5 separate regions of the Homo sapiens genome follow, and regions 2, 3, 4 and 5 are each linked to region 1. The links come from fine-mapping of genetic effects on gene expression. A gene starts in region 1. Each other region holds a variant in brackets. All regions are shown on one strand. Distances are from middle to middle.

Evidence for each region. PIP is the estimated chance that this variant, and not a neighbour inherited with it, causes the effect. A credible set is the group of variants that fine-mapping cannot tell apart.
Region 2: its variant is the best candidate, but not a certain one, in a credible set for the expression of TBC1D22A in whole blood (INTERVAL, PIP 0.80).
Region 3: its variant is the best candidate, but not a certain one, in a credible set for the expression of TBC1D22A in whole blood (INTERVAL, PIP 0.63).
Region 4: its variant is the best candidate, but not a certain one, in a credible set for the expression of TBC1D22A in whole blood (TOPMed, PIP 0.83).
Region 5: its variant is the best candidate, but not a certain one, in a credible set for the expression of TBC1D22A in blood mononuclear cells (TOPMed, PIP 0.82).

The regions. Positions count from the first base shown.
Region 1 is chr22:46,760,861-46,764,962 of GRCh38, forward strand. It overlaps TBC1D22A (TBC1 domain family member 22A), which reads left to right and starts at 1,790. Exons shown (of 13, transcript NM_014346.5): 1 at 1,790-1,988. The coding sequence starts at 1,927. TBC1D22A-DT (TBC1D22A divergent transcript) reads right to left here and starts at 1,668. Exons shown (of 1, transcript NR_186691.1): 1 at 1,051-1,668. RefSeq lists enhancers at 837-1,671, 1,408-1,537, 2,238-2,317, 3,248-3,317, 3,358-3,437 and 1 more and a silencer at 2,438-2,497.
Region 2 is chr22:47,030,047-47,034,162 of GRCh38, forward strand. All of the region lies in intron 10 of TBC1D22A (TBC1 domain family member 22A), which reads left to right. Among named protein-coding and RNA genes, the nearest start is that of TBC1D22A-AS1, 120 kb to the left of the region's middle. RefSeq lists enhancers at 438-966, 967-1,494, 1,991-2,582. The variant C/G (reference allele first, on the strand shown) is at 1,933.
Region 3 is chr22:46,978,742-46,982,857 of GRCh38, forward strand. The region is part of intron 9 of TBC1D22A (TBC1 domain family member 22A); the gene reads left to right. Among named protein-coding and RNA genes, the nearest start is that of TBC1D22A-AS1, 65 kb to the left of the region's middle. The variant C/G (reference allele first, on the strand shown) is at 2,236.
Region 4 is chr22:47,173,633-47,177,748 of GRCh38, forward strand. It overlaps TBC1D22A (TBC1 domain family member 22A), which reads left to right. Exons shown (of 13, transcript NM_014346.5): 13 at 1-2,061. Among named protein-coding and RNA genes, the nearest start is that of TBC1D22A-AS1, 260 kb to the left of the region's middle. RefSeq lists an enhancer at 2,219-3,309. The variant G/A (reference allele first, on the strand shown) is at 1,928.
Region 5 is chr22:46,990,393-46,994,508 of GRCh38, forward strand. All of the region lies in intron 9 of TBC1D22A (TBC1 domain family member 22A), which reads left to right. Among named protein-coding and RNA genes, the nearest start is that of TBC1D22A-AS1, 76 kb to the left of the region's middle. RefSeq lists an enhancer at 2,868-3,696. The variant G/C (reference allele first, on the strand shown) is at 2,034.

The DNA of each region.
Region 1 (4,102 bases):
CTCCAACATCTGTATTACTTTGGCTTTCAAAACTGGCCTTCTACTCAGACTTTCTTTTTCCATCTTCACGTTTCTGTTGTGATCCTAGTAATCCTTTGCTTAGCTGGTTTTGAAGCCTTCAAGTCAATCTCAGCCTCACTCCTTCGCCTGAAAACAGTAGCTAGCAAAGTATACGGTAAGCTATAAAAAGCACCCGGATCTAAGGTGTAACCAGTCACTAAGTGCTGCCAGTTTTTCCTCTGTCAATTGTTTCAGTTCTTCCTTCCTTTCCCCTTCCATCAGGTTAATCCTGCTGTCACCTCGCTCACTGGTTCTTGCAATAAGCCAGACTGAGCTGGAAAGAACCGCCATGGTCCTCAGTGTTGTCTGTAGGGGACCTCACTGTCTGAGGCTGTCAGGGCTCTGTCAGGAGGAGACCCCTGGGGCCTTCTGAGCCCTACTAGGAGAGGATTCTAGGAGAGTAGGACGCCTTGCACATAGTAAGTACTAAGTCAATGTTACTTACCAGTAAATGAAGAGGCATGGGAAATTGTTATTATTTTTGAGACGGAGTTTCGCTCTGTCGCCCAGCCTGGAGTGCAGTGGCACGATCTGGGCTCACTGCAAGCTCTGCCTCACGGGTTCACGCTATTCTCCTGCCTCAGCCTCCAGGGAAATTCTTAATCAGAAAATATGTCTTAGATTTTTGTTTTAAAAGAGAACTGGCAGGAGCTCCAAATACACTAAAGCTCCAGTCTGAAATGACAGTCCCTGAGCATTCAATCTTTGGTCTAAGAAGCACAGAAATGTAATGCAAACCAGACACGGTTTTTTTAGTGATTTTCTGCACACACACACACACACACACACACACACAGTAAAAAGATCTAGTCATAACGTGTGCACCTGCAGTTCCAACTACTGGGGAGGGTGAGGCAGGAGGATCACTAGAGGGCAGGAGTTCGAGACTAGCCTGGGCAACATAGCAAGACACCCACCCCCAGTCCCCCCCGGAAAAAAAGAATAAAAAAGGTAAAAATAATTTTAAAAAGAGTAAAAGGAATGTAAAAATAATTTTAATGCATTTTATTTAATCCAATACATTAAAAATGTTACCTAACATGCAAACAATATACAAATTATTTTATACGACGTCTTTGGAATCCTGTATTTTACACGTAAAGCGCATCTCACTCCGGACTAGCCAGGTTTCAAGCACGTGATAGCCGCACAAGGCTGGAACCCAGGCCTGGGGAATTAATTCTTGTCCTCGGTGCTCAAACCATTCTTCCCTTCAAGCCTGGCCTAATCCCCAGTCTCTCTCATCTCTTCGAATACGCTCCGCGGTTATGCCCCTCACCTCACTGCACTGCAAATATTTCGTCCACTGAGTATTTGCTGATCGTCACTCAGTGCCGGGTGACCCAGCTTGACCAGCACCCGCAGCCGCCCTGCCACTGTTGGGCCGGGTATGGTGTGTCTGGCTTCCCTCTGTTCTGGGCCGGCTCCGAAACGCGCTCAAGAGAAATCGGAATCAGACACGGGGCAGTTCAGCTTTGGAAATGAGGAGCTCGAGGCTCCTGGGAGTCCGTTGCGGGCAGGTGGGCGCCGCTGTTGTGTCGGGAGAGCCAGGAGCGACAGACTCAAACTCAGAAACCCAACCACCTCCGCTCCCTCCGCGATGCGTGTAACGTGCGTTGCGCGGCGTCGCCCTTTAATAACGACGGGCGCTCGGAGTGCTGCGTCACTCGCCACCAGGGACTTAGGCGGGACTTCCGGGCGCGCGTAGGCACAACTTCCGGAAGGAGGCGGAAGAGCTTCTCGGCTCTAGGCTCTGGAGTCCCGGGAGCAGTGAGGGGCCACCCGGGGCACAGGAAAGGGCCGCTAGGGGAGGGCCGGGTGCACTCGGGGTGTCTGGGCCGCGGGTCTGAGGGATGAGGAGGGGCCATGGCCAGCGACGGGGCCAGGAAGCAATTCTGGAAGCGCAGCAACAGCAAGCTCCCGGGCAGGTGGGTGTGCCGCGGAGGGCCAGGTCGGGGTCAGGGGTCAGAGGTCAGGTGGCCGCGTTGGCCTCCTGGGCTGCGGGTGGAGTCGGGGGTCTGGAGAGGGCAACTTGGACTCTGAGGAGACTGCTGGATGGTGTGACGGGCGTTGGGGGGCTCGGAGGTCGGAGCGTGGGGTCTGGGGGTGACAGTGGCTGCACGTAGGATCGAGGCTTGCAAGGACGAGGAGGAGCTATTGGCGTTTTTCCTGACACTGGCAGGCTTCTTTCCGAGAAACTCCTGGGCTCCTTGGGGAGGCTGGAAGGAACTGATTCGGGTCATGCTGTGAAGTTTGGTGGAGTCCGGAAGCTGGCCGGGCTGAGGCCCCCCGTCTGCTGGGTGGATCAGTTTCTGCAGGGGGTGTGGTGTTTTTGACCCACTTGATTTGCCTGTGGTCTCTTGAGGGCTGCGGCTCTTGCCTTGAGCATAGAAGAGGACTAGAGTTTCCCTGTGAGTTTCCATGTTTCTGCTTGCTGGTGTCAAAACCACCTCCTATGTTGTGTTAGCAGGAAGTTTTTTTTTTTTTTTTTTTTTTTTTTTTTTTTTTCTTCGGCTGGAATGACCTGGGTACACCCTAGATGCTATACAGCTCCAGAGCTCCAGAGTCCTTGTCTGATTGCTGTGGCGCTGAGCTATGCCAGGGCCCTAGGGAATGAGACATTACGTGGAGGGTACCTAGGATAAAATCAGCCACTGGTGAAAACAGATCAGAGATAAGCAAACGTCAAGATTTCAGAACATAGTTCTGTTCCAAAGCTGAAGTCTGGAATGCTGAAAATTATGAATTGTGTTACGAAGATAAGTCTGAGTAGAATCATTCATAAACACAGTAAAATGGTTTGTACTCCTGTTTCATAATAAATATTATTGTTTGAGTGTTTGAATGATAAACTTTGGAATTTACTGCATCCAGTTAGAAAAGTTTACTTTTGGCCAGGTGTGGCGGCTCACGCCTGTAATCCCAGCACTTTGGGAGGTCGAGGTGGACAGATCACCTGAGGTCAGGAGTTTGAGACCAGCCTCACCAACATGGAGAAACCTAGTCTCTACTAAAAATACAAAATTAGCTGGGCATGGTGGCACATGCCTGTAATCCTGGCTACTTGGGAGGCTGAGGCAGGAGAATCACTTGAACCTGGGAGGTGGAGGTTGCAGTGAGCCGAGATCGTTCCATTGCACTCCATCCTGGGCAATAAGAGCGAAACTCTGTCTCAAAAAAAAAAAGGAAAGTTTACTTTTAAGAGTGATCTGGGGGTTAGCAGCGTGAGTTACTGACAGCTCAGACAGTGGCTTTGAGAATGAAGGGAGTCATCAAAGGTGGCCGGAGACCCTATTCGACTCCACAGGACCGTGCTTGATTCGAGAACAGTAAGACCTTTCAACAAAACCAGTGTCAGGGTCCAAGGTGAGTGAAGATTCTGGAATGGTGGTGGGTAGGAGGTCCTGGTAGTGACAGGAACAAATGCTGTAGAACATAAGAGTCCAGGGAAGAGGAGCCACATGACAGTGTAACTTTTATGTGTTACTTTTAGGTCTTAAGGTTTTGGTTCCTCATCAGTCTAAACTCTAATTCTTAATCAGCTTAGATGTAAGAATAACAGAGCTGCTGTGTGGAGTTACAGCAGTGACTCAACCTTTGGATTGAAGGCTGTGGCTCTTGGTAATTTGTCCTTATACTGAGTTGAATTTATGTCCATCTGGAAACTATGGATGTGACATTTGGAAATAGGGTTTTTGCACAAGTAATCAAGGTAAAATGAGGTCATACTGGATGAGGGTGGGCCTTAGTTCGTCAACTAGTATTTTTATAAAAAGAGGGAAATTTGAATACAGAGAGACACACACAGGGAAATGGCCCTATGGAGACAGAAACAGAGATTGGAATAGTACATTTACAAGCCAAGGAAAGCCAGGGGTTGCTGGCAGCCACCAGAAGCTAGAAGAGGCAAGGAAGGATGCTCACCTAGAGACTTGACAGAGAGCATGGCCCTGCAGATGACCACTTGATTTTGGGTTTTTGGCGTTTAAAACTGAGAGAGAATAAGTGTCTGTTGTGTTAAGCCATTCAGTTGGTGGTAATT
Region 2 (4,116 bases), 270 kb after region 1:
AGAAAGGAGGTGGGCTCAGAGTGGGGGGCCTCTTGGTGCGGAGGGGCCCTGCTCACTGTCAGTGGCTCTTGCTTTTGTTCTTTTTATCTTTTTAACTGATTAGAGAATTGAAATCTTCCCCCAGAATCAAAGCCTATTCATGGCTGTCCCAGCCAAAGCGTGATGTATTTGTGTCTGTTCTCGGCTTTGTGCGGGGGGTTGAAAGGTTTTCTTTGTCAGGTGTCTAAGTGTGAGCCATTATGCTGCTCTTCGGGTGATAAATCTGAGTGTCTGGTCCTGCATAAACAGTGTGTGTTTTATGCCAAGTCAATGGGATACGTGTTTTTTCCATTTTAGCCTAAATCCTGGGACACAATGTGCTTGCATAATTTATTTTTATTTTTAATCAAGAAGACAAGATGTTTCAGCAGAATTTTCGGTCTGTGGATCTGCTGTTTAAAGTGCTGGGAAAAGTGTTCAACAAATATTGTGGTTGTTTCTCCAGCTTGCCAATATGACACATCTCTTCCTGGTGACTTTACAACAATAACGTTGCCTTGCCCTGCCACATAAGGGCTTTATGAAAAAACCTTTTCAGCCTGAAATATGACAATAATTACACCTGCCTGCTCATTCATTGTATGTATACTCTTATTTCCAGTGAAATGGAAATTTCAAATTCAGAATTATTGCCAACCAAATTACCTTTATCAGTGAAAGAGCATCTGCTCGCAATTACTTATAAAATAAGAAAAATGAATCCTTTCGGCATGTACATTTGCAGCTTTGATGTGTATAAATGGGAAGTAATGCCTGGAGTTTAGCAGCCCATCCTTCACCGTGCCCAGACGGGAGGAGGCTTTCCCGCTGGGGATGCACGTCCCGGCGGGGTGAGGCCCTGGCTGGCCACGCCCGCACCCTTCATGACGTGCTGCCAGAGAAGCCACGGAGTCGTGCTAAGTGACCACTTCCGTGTGAAGAAGGACACTCCCCGGTGCCTTCTGGATGGATGTCCCATGGGCTCCAGAATCAAGCCAGCTTAGCCAGGCTGTGTTGGGTGACTCAGCGGAGCGCTTGCCATGGAGTCCCTTGCTGTGGCCACCATGGTCTCGTGCTGTGCCTGCCATCACCTCTGGGTGGGCGTGGGTTTTGCCTTTTCACTCCTTTCAGGAGTTCAAGGTCCTGTGTCAGGCAGAAGGCCAGGCACTCAGGACACAGAGAGCTTGTAATTCGGGTGCAGTGCACAGCTTGGAGCCCGAAGGCTGGATTGCCTTGTCTGTTTCCTACAGGCTGCTGAGCCCCCGGCGGGCAGAAACAGGCCTTGTCTTCCTTGTAGCTTTGCTTTCAGAGGCAACCCTGGGAAGTGGAGGCCCTGGTCAATCTTTCCTTAAGGAACCAATGAAAGAGGAGCCTCTTGCCCTGGAACGGCCTTGCCTGTGCCTGTGAGGTTAACGCTGTGTCCGGTTTTCTGGTTAGTTCCTTGTGACCGGGTGCTCTTGCAGATGTACTGGGCTTTGCCCTGAGGAGGGTGGGTGGCTCTGCCCAGGGCGCAGGTGCCCAGAGATGCAAGGGTGGGTCCATGCTCAGCTCTGGTGGTGTGGGGTCGTTTCAAGGGGACAGAGTGGTGGCAATCCTCAGGCCCATCTTGGCTCGCCTGCCTCCTTGTGTGCACCTTTGGACAGGTCCCCTCACCTGCCTCACCTCACAGGTGAGGGGCCGGGGTCCCCAGGGTGTGAGGTGTGTGCCCCCCTTCAGGAGCTGTGCAGTGGGAGTTCGGTGCAGGTTAGCCGGCCATTGCACTCTGGCTGGAACGGGCTCCTTCTCCTCAAGTCAGCGTCCCTCAGGGAGGGGCTGAGGGCTTGGTGGCCTCTGTGCTTTCCACCCCTGAGTCCCTGCAAGTGGGGCAGGAAGGGTTAATTTGTACTCTGTTTAGTTACCACAATGACAGGTGTT[C/G]CAGAAATATGTGTTTAAATTTTCAAGTCTGTTTCTTGCCAGTTTGTGTTGGAAAGATGTCACCTGCTTCCCAGGCCCGTGGTAGAGTTGTCTGTTTTCCCAGGTGGGGACATGCCGAGCCCCGGCACAGGTGGGCTGCTGCTGCTCTAGGCAGGTGACAGACTGGCCGGTGAGCCACGGCTCCTCTTCTGCGTGTGACTCTGTGGTGTGCACCTTCCCCAGCAGTCACCTCATCCTCATCCATGGCAGCGGCTGCCCTGGGTGCCAGGCTGCCTGGTTAACAAATGTGTGCCCCGCACACATCACATGTGTGGTGGGCCATGGCCTGCCTTGGTGCTGGTCTCTGTTTCCGGACAAAGTCCCTGCCCTCGAGGAAGTCACAGTCTAGAGGATAAGACCCTCTGGCAAGTCCCACCCACACCAGGTCCCCCAGACTGGGTCCAGGGCCTGGCCCTGTGAGTGCTTGGTTGAGAGGCCTCATCATACACTGGATTTGTGCCTGGAGTGAGAGGAGAGAGGGAGTGGCCGCGAACACACACCCAAAGGGAAGAACACCCAGGCTCTGTAGCCCTGTCTAAAGCTCGCCTGAAGCCTCCTGTGTAAAATGTGGGCACAGCACTCGTGTCCTGGTGATTAGCCTGTGACTGTCCCACTGCTGCCTTGGTACACTGGGGCCCTGCCCTGGCAGCATTGGAGAACCTTCAGAGCAGCGGCCAGACAGGGATGTGCAGTGTGGCCGTGTGTCCCAGGAGGCCCCAGGCTGCTGACTTCAGCTTATCTCCACGGCAGAGCTTCATTCACGCCAGTGCAAGGCGGCACCCACTTGCTGCAGCCCAGACGTCCACGCAGAGCTGTGGGCTGGGAGTGGCCAGTGAAACCAGGTGCCACCTGCCAGGCCAGGCACCTGCCCTGGAACGTTCCTTTCACACTGCCGTCCCAGGCTGCCCTGTGTGGCCCCTCCTTCCTCAGGCGCTTTGTTTCAAGCAGTGATTTTCCTCTGGGGCTGTCGCTGTCGTCCTGGCTGCTCTTCCCCAAGTAGCCAACTGCTCCTTCATGGAAGCTCATTCTTTTTTCTGTGCAAAAGAGCCTTGTTGAGTAAATGGAGTCATTTTCTAAACAGCTGGTTTTAAGTGTTCAGACTTGAATTCCACGTGTCAGTGCGCTGGGGGCAGCAGAGTCTGGTAGCAGCTTGGGTGGACTTCCACCCTCCGAGGGGCATGGGCAGAGGTCAGGCCTGGATGGTGGAGCCCCCTCAGGGCTTCGTAGAACTTTCTATCAGTTTAGTTTTGTAGCTGCAGATTAACTTCAGGTTAGAAATGATTCTGTAAGTTCTTTGAAAAGAACGTCATGTTCTAGGGTGTGGCTGGAAAACTCCTCGCTATTGCTGTGTTGAGAAATAGAAGTAGAGGAGGACGGCCAGGCTGGGAATGTGTCCATCTTCCGGTTACCTGTTTGCTCTCTGTACTCATTCGTTCATCACAGTCACCTGACAGACACTCATGGATGCTCAGTTGTGTGTACTGGGGGCCGGGGAAACAAAGGCGACACAGACCTGGACCCACACCTGACCAGCTCACACCCCAGGGTGGGCAGGCACCCTGAGCACTTATGCCCCTTTCGTGATAAATGCTTCCATAGAGGTGTGTATAGAACGAAGAAGAGGGGGAGGCTCACAGCTTGGGGTGTTTCTGGAAGCATCCAGGAGTTTTGACGTCTGGGTAGCCTCGCACTGAGCAGAGACAGGTGCCCTGGTGGAAGGCTGCCATGAGGGTGAGCCCGGGGCGCGGGGAAGCCTGCGTGGTAGCATGGGTGTTGTTGGTCACCTGGTGCCACCGCAGGAGGCATGGCATTGCAGGGGAAGGCAGCGGTGAAGGCCGAGGAGGGAGTGGGGGTCTGGTGCCTTTCTTAGGCACTCTGACTTCATTCTGGGGGCCAGTGTCTCTTCATCTGTGGGGATCCTGAGACACCTCCTGGCACCCCCTTTGGTCTCTCTGTCCCCCGAGGGATGAGCAGCCGTGGGATTAAATTCTGCGGGGGCTTCAGCCTCAGGGGCCCCTCGGCAGCACCGTTTTGTTCTCTCCACTTGCCGCGCTGCCCTTTACTTATTAGAGACTATGGGAACCATTTTTTGGTAGTGAAATTAGTTTTATTTTAAAAATAAATGTCTTTAATAAAGCGGCAGTG
Region 3 (4,116 bases), 220 kb after region 1:
GGAATTACAGGCACACGCCACCATGCCCGGGTAATTTTTGTATTTTTGTTAGAGACAGGGTTTCACTGTGTTGGCCAGGCTGGTCTCAAACTCCTGACCTCAAGTGATCTGCCCGCCTCAGCCTCCCAAAGTGCTGCGATTACAGGTATGAGCCACCGCGCCCGGCCAGGAAGTGTTTTAATAGCCTTTTCAGGTAATTTTGGATTCTTTTTTCATTCATACTATACTATTACTCAACAAATGGTAGTTTCTTAAAGGGTAGTTGTGATATGAAATCTGAAACCTCATCAGTGAATGTTTTACACTCAGTTACATTAAAGTTGGTGGCCTATCTTGCACTTTGATAGGATCTTTTACCCATATATTGGCTCTGTAACATCATTCATTGGCGATTTGGAAAATATTGGCTGACTGAGGTGTGCAGATCTTTTAAATGTTGATAAGTTTCATCGTATGATCAAATTTGTTAGTATATTACCACCGTCTCATAAGAAGCAGCTGTCAGGCCCAGGGTGGCAGATAAAAGTCTTCCAAAATTCAGATTTTTAATTTAAAAGCTCAGATATTATCATTGGCAACAAACACAGTTCCTTGTTTCTTTTGAAGTGACAGGCCAACTTCATTCATTTTTGAGAAAATATCTTCCAGAGACCCGCGTTTGAATAACTGATTTGTCTGCTAGTCCTTCTTTCATGTAAACGTGATGTTTCTTGAAGAAAGTGTTCGGTTCAGCTCACAGCTGAAGCCAGCGCACCAAGTGCTCTCCTTGACGACGCTTCTGTTTCTGGATTTGCCCCTCAGGCTTTCCGTGTTCTTCCACGTGTTGGTCAGGGCTGAGCCTGAGCGCAGTGTTAATAGTAAGATGAGTGACCTTTCCTGCCGTATCCAGGGCGTCCTGAAGTGAAACAGCCTTTTGCTTTCACACCATGAGCGTGTGGTATTGGGAACACAGTGACGGTTGAGTGTGGTGAGGGCACTGCCCTGCCTGCTGCCAGCATGCCCGCAATTTTACCCACCACTGCCTGTGTACTGCCAGCACAAATGTCAGCACCGTGAGGAAGGTGAATCATGCCTTCATGTTACTATGACAGCAGTTTCAATATAACAGACCCCTTGAAAGGTCTAGGGACCCCCAGGAGTTGGCTGGCTACCGTCTGAGAACTTCTGCCCAGGAGGGATGATCTCCTGCCACAGGCCTGTGGCATTCCCATGGGAAGAGGCATCTGCAGATGACCTCACAGCAGACGAAGTACAAACCAAGCAGAGAAGGAGTGCGCCGGGAATAAATGTTAGCGATTGCTCTCGTTAGGAGGATTTGTACCCAGAGACCTGAGACACTAGAACAGCGATTTGAAAGGAACCAGACAATGTGTAACTTTAAAATATTAAGGAGAATGAAACAGTTTAAAATAAAGACTCTGAAGAAAGAACTCACAGATTTATTTATATTTATTTATTTGAGATGGAGTCTCGCTCTGTTGCACAGGTCGGAGTACAGTGGTGTGATACTGGCTCACTGCAACCTCCATCTCCCGGGTTCAAGTGATTCTCCTGTCTCAGCCTCCTGAGTGGCTAGGACTACAGGTGCCCACCACCACACCCAGCTAATTTTTGTATTTTTAGTAGAGACGGGGTTTCACCATGTTGGCCAGGATGGTCTCGATCTCTTGACCTTGTGATCCCCCTGCCTTGGCCTCCCAAAGTGCTGGGATTACCCAGGTGTGAGCCACTGTGCCCGGCTAGAAATCACAGATTTTAAATGGAACCAAACAGAACTTCTAGCATCGAAATTAGAGTCACTGAAATTTAAAACTCATTAGACAAAAGAGAAGAGAGAGTTAGTTAGAATTGAATGTAGTGCTGAGAAAATTACCAACTGGGCAACACAGAGAGATACTGAAAATATGGGCAGATTAAGACATGGAAAGATAGAATTTAAAAAATAGAACTAGAAAGAGAAATGTACTAGAGGAAAGCCAATATTTGTAAAGCTGTGGCTGGGAATTTTTCAGCATTGATGAGATGTTGTTACTAATATCTAATAAATCTCCAGAAAGATGAGTTGAAACTAATTACCTATGGAGACATGAGAGTGAAGCCACTGAATAAGAAAGAGAAGAGAAAGTCTCATAGGAAAGAAGAAAGGCCAGAAAAAAGTAGAATAATGTGTCTCATGTTCTGAAGAAAAATAGCTCTCCAATGAGATTAGATTTAAAAACAGAATCCAGCTATATG[C/G]TACTTACAAGACACCGAAACCACAAGGAGACAGGTAGAAAGGAAATGCAACAGAAGAATATTAACCAAAGTAATAGTTAGGTAGCTCTGTAGCCCATATGTAGCTGTGTAATAGCCGTGGAGCTATTAAATGAGATAGATTTTTAAGGCAGAAAGCATTCCTAGAGACAAAGAGTATCACTGCCAGTGGATACATTTACCAGGGAAGAGTTAATCTTGAATGCATGACCTTGACCCTGTATTTCTGCACATGTACATAAGTATGATGGGAGAGGGGTGGTGGTTGTCAATGCCTGACATGGTCCTGAGTGCTTCGTTGTAATATTAGTTCATTTTCCCTCACAGCAACCATAAGGCACTTCCAATTTTGTGGCTAGTTAGTTGCAGCATTGGGGTTTAGACCCACACAGTCCAGTACCAGCTTTCCTGCCTCTCAGTGATTAGTAGGTGATACGGTTAGGCTTTGTGTCCCCACCCAAATCTCACCTTGAATTGTAATCTCCATAATCCCCCACATGTCAAGGCAGAGACCAGGTGGAGCTGATTGGATCATGGGGGCGGTCTCCCCCATTCTGTTCTCTTGATAGTGAGTGAGTTCTCTTGAGATCTGACTGTTTTATAAGGGGCTCTTCCCCCACTTTGCTCAGTACTTCTCCTCCCTGCTGCCCTGCAAAGAACGTGCCTCTTCCTCTTTGTCTTCCACCATGATTCTGAGTTTCCTGAGGCCTCCCCAGCCATGCTGAACTGTGAGTCAGTTAAACCTCTTGTCTTTATGAGTTGCCCAGTCTCGGGCAGTTCTTTATAGCAGTATGAAAGTGGACTAATACAGTAGATCGAGCAGATAAGAATTAGGAAGATCTGGGAGGACGTGTACTGCACAGTTTGGGCAAATGGACATACCTAGACCCCCATATCCAGCACACAGAGAATATTCATTCTTTTCCAGTGTGCACAGAAGATCTGTAAGAATGGCAATACCAGCAGTTACTAGGGAGCCAGATAGACCAAGGTCTGGGTGGGGGATTAGCAGATTGAGAAGAGCATTCTAGACTAAGCTGGGACTCCATGGTGTGGGATCACTCAGAGTGCTTAGGGAGCAGGAGTGTGGGCTGGAGCTTGAGGCTGGGAAGCTGGGTTGATGTTTGACAGCTCTGGAAAGTCTGTCCTTGTGGCCTGCACCAGGTACTTGGGCCTGATCACTCATCTCTGGTGGATTGATGCCCTTCCTGCTAAGTGTTTAAGAGACAGTCTTTTTTTTTTTTTTTTGAGATGGAGTCTTACTCTGTCACCAGGCTGGAGTGCAGTGGCATGATCTTGGCACACTGCAACCTCTGCCTCCCGGGTTCAAGCAATTCTCCTGCCTCAGCTTCCCGAGTAGCTGGGACTACAGGCACCCGCCTCCACGCCCGGCTAATTTTTATATTTTTAGTAGAGACGGGGTTTCACCATGTTGGCCAGGATGGTGTTGATCTCCTGGCCTCATGATCCACCCGCCTCGGCCTCCCAAAGTGCTGGGATTACAGGCGTGAGCCACTGCGCCCGGCCAAGAGACAGTCTTTTTAGTCAGGGGCATTTGGTGTTGGGGGAAAAGGCAAAACAGCTACATTTCCAGATGTGCTGGTCTTAGGGGAGATGGTCTGTCCAGCGAGTAATGCCTGGAAAGCCACTGCTGGCCTACCGGTCGTGTGAACAACGAATCGATGTCATTGGCACTGCCCTGAGGGACGTCTAAGCTTGTGGAGGGATGTGGGATGTATTTGGATGAAGGAGGGGATTCAGGAGCCTAAACTAGGTGGTGGCGGGACAGGCATTGGCGGGCAGGTGCAAGAGCACTGAGGGCAGCTGTAGACCTTGTTGGCCATGCAGAGCAAGTGCCCAGTG
Region 4 (4,116 bases), 410 kb after region 1:
GCCCACCCGCAGCTGGCCTCACTGTCCCGGGTGGCGCGCCCCACCTGCCTGGCTGGTGGTAGGCCCCTGTGAGCTGGTCCCGGGCTGCTAAAAGGCCTTGTGAGGTGGCCCCACCCTCCAGGGGAGCTGGTGAAGATGGGCCACAGACCTGGTCTAGGGCTGACAAAGACAGGGACAGCCTTTGTTTTCTGAGATACCAAAGAGAGCCAGGGGAGGGCCCCGGGTTCGGCGGCCAGAGGCAGGTCAGGGGTCCCCTCTCCCTCTCCCTGCAATGTCCTTGCCAAATGACTGCCTCGTGCTGCCCCTAGTCCGGGGCAGCCTAGGAGGCCGACCCTCTTTGGAGTCCTGCTGTCTGGGTGCCAGGGCCGGAACGAGGTAGTGGCCATCTCATACCTACTCTGAAATGCAAAACTTCTATTCTGTTGAGTGAAAGAATAAAATGTAGACAAAATCTAGACCGAGACGTTGCGCTGACCCGGGGTCTCTGTGCCGCGAGGTCCCCTCACAGCTGTATTTCACTGCTGCTGGCCCTTTCCCTCCGTGTGTTTTCCTGCTTGCTTGGTTTAAACGTGGCTGGGAAGCTGAAGGCTGGAGTCCAAGCCGTGAGCCCGCCGAGTGCCTGGGAGGCCGTGGGACCAAAGGCTGGGAGCAGAGGGAGGCCTCGCCATCGCCTTACTTTCCACCTTGAACCTCTTTTACAAGAGAGAAACCCCCACCTCCCTGAGGTCCAGGGCCAAGTGGCCCCGCCACGCAGGTAGGCGCCGGCCTCAGCCAGAGCCCCTGGAGGCCCACCCAGGCTGTCGGGCCATGTTGGGCTGGCAGACGGGCAGGGGGTCGCGTCCCTGTCATCAAAGCCCTGAACCACAGTGCTCTTCTCACCGCAGCCTGGAAGCGGAATGAGCTTTTGGAGACTTCCTGGGACTTGCTGTCCTTGTCCAGGTCTGCCAGGTGTAGGGGAGGTGTGACTGGTTCCATCATGGACCGGTTCCTCCATGGACCGGTTCCTCCGTGGACCGGTTCCGCCATGGACCGGTTCCGCCATGGACCACTCCTGCCCTGGACCACTCCTGCCCTGGACCGGTTCTGCCGTGGACTGGTTCCCGCCGTGGACCAGTTCCCGCTGTATACTGGTTCTGCCCTGGACTGGTTCCCGCTGTGGACTGGTTCCTTGGGGCTCTAAGTGCGGAAGGGCCCAGAGCTGGTCCCTGCCCAGCGCCCTGCTAGGGCTGTGTCCTTGGCTCCAGGGGCCTTGGGACTGGCTTCCCAGCGTTCCCTCGGTGTGTCACAGGCTGCATGACCCCTGGAATGCGGGCAGGGCCACAGCCACAGTCTGTCTGATCCCTGAGCCCAGGACAGGCTCACGTCCTCAGCGACCCACTGGTGACTGACTTCCCAGACTCTCCTCTGTCCCTCAGGAGCAGCCGTGTCCTCTCCCAGGCCCTAGGACACTGCCAGAGACTGTGGGACATACAGGCATAAGTGATGTGTGTGTTTCTGCTTCTGTTTTAAAAATCCAGGGTCATTACACACAGCATGGAAATTAGCACAAAATGCTGTGCAAACGTCAGATGCTCCCAAACCAGCAAAGGGATGGGCTTGCTTCACATCAGATGCGGGCACGCCTTACCCCTGCCTTCCGTGTCCCCACCCCAGGGTCAAGGGTTCCTCAGACCAGCCATGCCTCCTCCTCCTGCCGCCTCCTTTTCTAGATGGGGAGGGGATTCCGTCACAAGAAGAGCCGCCCCTCGGCCGTGTGCAGGAAGCCCCATGTCGCTTTGCCGAGATCAGCCCTGGGAGGATCCCCTTCTCCAGCTCAGATCATGCCGTGTGGCCAGAAGGCTGCGGACACAACTGACCTGCTTCTCGAGGTGGTTGATGTTTTAAACAGGAAGCTCCACGGAGTTCAGCCCTGTGTGCATTTCCTCAT[G/A]TATGTAAACGCCAAGACTGAATGTGAGAGGTGTTGGCCGCGGGCCTTAAGTCTGAGCAGATCCATCTGGAATGTTCGGGGTGTGCTGTCTGGATGTGGTGCGCTAAAAACACGGAATAAAGATCAGTGACAAAGCCGCGGCCTTGGCCTGTGATTCGAGGACTTGCCCATCGAGGACAGGGGCACCCTGGCCCAGCCCTGCCGAGGGTCTGAGCTCAGGGCCATTGCGGCGCACCAGCGTGGGCCCGGCAGCACCCGTGATCTCGCTGCCCCCCGCAGGACCTCTCAGGGAGATGGGGCTGCAGCTGCTCAGGTGGTGCAGGGATGCCACTTGCCCGGGCGGGGCAAGACTCAGAAACCAGTCTGACCCCCGAAGCCCGGCTCTGCACTAGCTGGAACACGGGAGTGTGGGGTCCAGGCTGGCCCCTGTCAGGCTCCTGAACAAGGGACCTCCCCTTGGGCCACATCTGTCAAGCACCTGCTTTGAAAAGGGCTGTTCCGGGGTAGGCACCAGGGTCTGGGGTCCCCCCCGCCTCTCCTGGGATACACTTGCCTCACCCTCACCCACACACTGAAACACCCTCCTTGCCCTGTGTTACTGAAGCAAGGCCCTTCAAAGGGCCTCAGTTTCTCAGGGCAGCTTTCCAGGTGCGCCACACCCCTCTGAGTAACCCCGTCTGGGTGCCCCACCCTCAGGTACCCCACACCCCCCTGGGTGCCCCACCCTCGGGACCCTCCCTTGGCAGCACTTGGCTTTCCACTGCCTTGTGCTGTCCGCTGACGGGTGTGGGGTGTGCTCCTGTCCCCGCGGGTGTGGGGTGTGCCCCTGTCCCCGCGGGTGTGGGGTGTGCCCCTGTCCCCGCGGGTGTGGGGTGTGCCCCTGTCCCCGCGGGTGTGGGGTGTGCCCCTGTCCCCGCGGGTGTGGGGTGTGCCCCTGTCCCCGCGGGTGTGGGGTGTGCCCCTGTCCCCGCGGGTGTGGGGTGTGCTCCTGTCCCCGCGGGTGTGGGGTGTGCACTACTGACCGGCTGTGGGGTGTGCTCCAGTCCCCACGGGTGTGGGGTGTGCTCCTGTCCCCACGGGTGTGGGGTGCGCACTACTGACCAGGTGTGGGGTGTGCTCCTGTCCCCGTAGGTGTGGGGTGTGCTCCTGTCCCCACGGGTGGGCTGGTGGCTCCACAAAGTGGGAGTAGCCTCTTCACCTCTCTTTCCACAGTGACCCAGTGCGGAGCTGAGCCAGGCAGGGCTGCCTTCCTGGGCCCGGTGGCCCGGCACATGGGCTGACCTCACTGTTGCCTGGCTGTGGTCTGCAGGGTCGTAGGCTGCAGGACGGAGATCGGCTGTCCCCAGCAGCCACCAGGTGTTCAGCTCCTGACTCCAGGTCACAGCCCAGCAACTGCCATTCACCTTCACGATTCCCCGGAGTTTGCAGCTCAGCAGTTGGCTCCTCGGGCCCAACTTGAGGTCTTCACAGCCTGTGCAGACTCTGCTCCTGTGGGTGGCCCGAGCCCAGGGGTCCTGAAATCAATCCCTGACCTGTGGTGGCTGCTGTCCTGTGCACCTCACCCTGCCCGGTCCCAGGGAGAGGCTCGGCCTGCTGGCACCACTGCTGTGCCCTTGGCAAGGTCAGACGCGTCGGGGAGCATTGGGGTCCTGGGGAGTAGGAGATGGAGAGTCTCTGTGGTTTGTACTTTTGGAAGAACTAGGAGGTGGGACGCTTCTGTGCCGTGTCACCGATGGATGGAAACAGGAGGAATACTGTCTGTGTTCAAGCAGACCCACTCCGCTGAGGACTTGGGGACAGGCTGCAGAATGACACGCGCCATCGCAGGCTGCAGCATGCCAGCCTCCATGCCGCCGTCCTCCAGAGCTGGAGGCTCCTCGTCAGCCCTGTGGCCCCAGTGATCTGCTCTCGGCCGCAGTCCTGGGGAGTTTGCCCAAGACTCAGACCCCTCGGGGTGTGGACCTCCCTGGGGCCTTCCCAGCCCCAGTCCACCCCACCGTTCCTCTCCTCTCTCAGCCCCAGCCCCTTGGCTTCCTTCTGGCTCTGCACTTTGCCCTGCGGGATTGCGGGCTGCTTGGGGTGGCCCCCACTCAGCTGTGAGGCCTTTCCACACCCACCCTGCAGCTCCTTGGCATGGAGGGTCCCCAGCACAGGATGGCCTCCACCCAGGAGGCACACGGCCGCTTACA
Region 5 (4,116 bases), 230 kb after region 1:
TAGAGAGGCCCCATGTGCTCCTCAGCGTCCTCCTTCAGCCCCAGCCTCCCTGTGATTAGTATCTCACATCACTGACTTCAGTGTGGCATATGTGTTACAATTGAGGAGCCAATATCGATACATTATTGTCAACTAAAGTCCACAGTTTACACCAGTTGTAGGCCGTGGGTTTTGAAAGGTGTGCAGTGACATGAGTCCACCAAGAAAGTGTCGCACAGTGTCGTCCCCTGCCCTGAACACCCTCGTGCCCCGCCTGTTCATCCCCTTCCACCCAACCCCTGGGCTTTTTACTGTCTCCATAGTTTCACCTTTGCCAGAATGTGACTTAGTTGAAATCCTGCAGTTGGAACCTTTTCATCCCACTGCTCCTGCTGCGGTGGCTTCTCTCCCCGTTGGCTTGCTGGCTGTCTCCCTCCCGCGCCGGCGTTCGTGACGGCTCTGCTCCTCGCCGTGTGCGTCTGGAAGTGACCATGGATGGCCTCCTCCTGCTGGTGTGCCGCTTTACTCTGCTGGTTGGCCCGTGTCTGAAGACAAGGGACAGTCACGTTTCCAGTGGTTTACAGAGGCACTGGTTCCTCTGGCCTGGCTGGGTTGGGAGCCTTCAGCCTTAAACCACTGTTTGATGGCTGACACATCATGGAAGGTGCGGAATTAGGGGGAGGTTGGGTTTGCACTCTATATGGGCATTGTCTTAGGTTCTTTTAGACACAGTAACTCAGTACCGCCTGTGCCCTTGTGATGGAGCCCTTCCTCTCTCCATTTCACAGATGGGAACACAGAAGATCAGAGAAATGAACCTGGCAGGTAGGAAAGCAGGGGGTTTGGTTAAACAAGGCTGCATAGAATCTGACACGTTTGTGCTCTGAGGGTGCTTTCTGAGAACATGCTGCCGAGCCCCGTCCTTGGCCCTGCCCTTCCCTCCTCTTGGCAGAGACTGTAGTGAAGACGTCAAGGGGATCCGTTTAACCAGTGCCTCTCAGCTGGGAGGGATAGCGAATGTGATAGATGGCACAATCAAGATTCAGAATGGGTTCAGCTGCCTGCAGTGCCAGCCGGGAACCAATCAAATGAATGAGCTAATAGGAACAAATGGCAAGTCCTACGTTCAGGTGCATGAGCCGAGCAGTCAGCTCAGCAGAAGGCAGTGTGGACAGTTGGGGTTCACTTTGTCTTCCGTGGGAAGCGCGTGTAGTCACTTTGCCTGGATTACGGCAGTTGCCTCGTGAATGATACCCCTCCATCCTCATTTGGCTCATTCCATTGTTTCTACATCATCTTTCCGTGGTGCAAATCTCTTACCTGCAGTGGCCTCCATTTGCATTTCATTACCTGCGTTTGAGAGCATTGCCTGGGTCTCACCGCTGACTCCGACGTGGCCTTCCAGCCTCGGAACGGTCTCCTCTTGCCTCAGCCGCAGCTTGCTCGCTGCCCTCCAGCTGCCCTGGCCTCCATTTCATTTCTGGGATGTGACATGCTCCCTCGGGCCGCCGGGGCTCTGCTGCATGGTGCCTGAACCCTCTCTCTCATCTCTGCTCAGACCTCACACCCTCCAAGTGGTCTTCCAGGACCAGCCCTGGTTCTGTGCTATGATGGTGTGGCCACCCAGGTCCTCGTTAGCAGTCAATGTGCACTTGCCTGGCGAGTGATGAACATTGGCTCAGCTGTCAGACTGTCATCCCTGTGAACAGAAGGGTCCTGTCTGCCTGTCCACTTTTCTCCCTGTCTGTGTCAGGGGATCCCAAGACGACCCCACAGAGCCACACTCGTGGCTGTGATTCTTCACAGTGCAAGGATGCAGAGGAGACTCCATCAAGGGGTAAAGTCCAGAGGAAGCGGTATAAGCTTCCAAGCCCCCTCCTGGCGGAGTCACACAGGACACGCTGGATCCCTCCAGTGCGGGGCTGGGACGACCCGTCCGAAACGTTGCCTGCTGGGGAAGCACATTAGAGACTCAGCACCGAGGATGTTACTGGGGACTGGGCATGCGGACACTCTCTGCTTGGCATGTGCCCAAATGCAGCCTCCCAGGAGGA[G/C]AGCAGGTGCCCAGGGTGAACCACCCTGCACAGTGTAGGCCCGCCGAGTCATCCAGATCAGTCAGGGAATCGTGGGAACTCTCCTGAAACCCACATTCTAGGCACCGGCCGGGGACCGGCCTTGCAAGCAGGACTCTCCGGGGATAGCATTCCCAGGCCTGCGTGTTTGACTCCTTCGCACACATCGATACTCAGGACTTGATTTTCTGGCACGTAGGAGGCTTTCAGAGTTGAACAGATGAAAGAACTAGTATCTGATGTGGTTCTGCCTTCCGCTGGACTGATGCGTTAATGGCTTTAATGTATTAATGGCTGACAGTGGAGTGCAGCTGTGACAGGAGGCTTCCTAGCTCTGTCCTTGCGTGGTCAGAGCCCAGCTTCTGTGTTCAGGGCTGGTGGCCAGGGGCCCCCGAGAGGATGTGGAAGGGAGTCTTAAGAGTTGAAGGAAATGGAAGTCTCTCAGGCCATTGCTTGCAGAAAAGACTTCCCGAGGTGTTTCAGAGGCAGGTCAAGGCCTGGGCGTGGAAGGCACATTTGGTTTCAATGTGGGGAAGACACTATGTTACGGTGAAATTAGCCTGGAAAGAAGAGGCTGGACTTTGTGGGGAGGTGGATCCCTGGTCCAGGTGGAAGAGCACTTTGTCAGAGAGGCAGGAGGGAGTCTAACTTCTCCGTGAGCTGGCAGGTTTGACTCTGGGTACTTCCAGGTGAGCTGATAGGAATTTATATTTCGACTCTTCTCTAAAATGCTCCCTAAGAAAATTTTATTCTACTTTTCTTCCAAAAAGTGCAGAAAGTGTTATTTGTTATCGGGAAGAGTGTGATGTTGTAATGGCAACAGGTGTAAGGCAAGCTGAGCGTATTTTTAAAAATTTATATTCACAGACTTCACCTTCTGTGAAACATTTCACAACAGATCGTTGTCTTCAGCCCTTCCTCTCTTCCCTCTGATGCATATGTTTTATAAATTATATCCTTTTTTAAAGATACCAGATCTCAATTGGAAAGGACATGCATACTTACTTTTTATGAAGGGAATAATGTTAATATTATTACTAATGACATTTTTATAAGTGTAGAGGATTCTTGCTTAGTTCCTGTTTTGCTGCCCAGGTACGTGTTCACCAGCACAGGTGATCTGGGTGCCAGGTGTGGGAGGCGGGGTGCTGGGCTGGGGTGTCCCGAGGGCAAATCTGGTTTCTGGGCCTTAAGCAGACAGAGCCTGTGATCTACCCAGGGGCCTTGGTGCAGCCTGCGGGCAGCTGCTGGGAGGGCCTGGGCGGTCAGTGCCTCCCTGGGACAGGCTGCTGCGAGGGCCATGGGACATTCTTTTCTCCCTCCTTTCCTCAGCCACCTGGCTCTGGATTCCTTGGCCACGGTGTCTGCCTCCTTAGAGTGCCCTTGAAGGCTTCCTGGCCCCAGAGCGGGGCCTTCTGCAGGCTGGGCTCACCTCCCGAGCCAGGAGCCAGGAGGGCCCAGACCGACCCCCCTGTGTCTTAGCCTTGGCGCCTCGCCCTCGGGGGGTGGGGCCGGGCGTCCCTGCTACAGCCTTCTGAAGGCTGGCCTTCTCCGCCCCTAGCCTGAAGCCAGAATGCCGAGGCCATAGCTGTCAGTCTTTGCAGGTCTTTCAAAATGCAAACATTTTCTCTTTCAAAATGCAGACCTTTTCGTTATTGGCTCTCAGGTGTCATTCTTTTTTTTTAATTGTTTGGATTTCTGAGAATCCGTCTTCCCTACCTGGGTTTTGAACAAATTGAGAAATAAAACAAAACTGTGCCAGATGGAGGCAAAGAATAACTTTTATTTCTGCTAACTGAGAGCCTAAAATCCTGTCTTAGTGGGAGAGCCACCGAATGGCTGACTGATCCCAGGACCCATCAGGCTCACCCACCCCATCAGAGCCAGTGTTGAGGGCCGGGCCCTGCCCACCTGCTGTGGAGCCTCTTGAGAAGTGCAAGGGGCTGAACCCACCTTCGCCTCTCCCCGTTTTGGCCTCCATGGGGCGAGCATTTCTGCGGCTAGAGCAAGTCCAGGAGAGGCAGCAGCTGCGCTCCAAGCTGACTCCAGGTCTGTCTGTTATTCA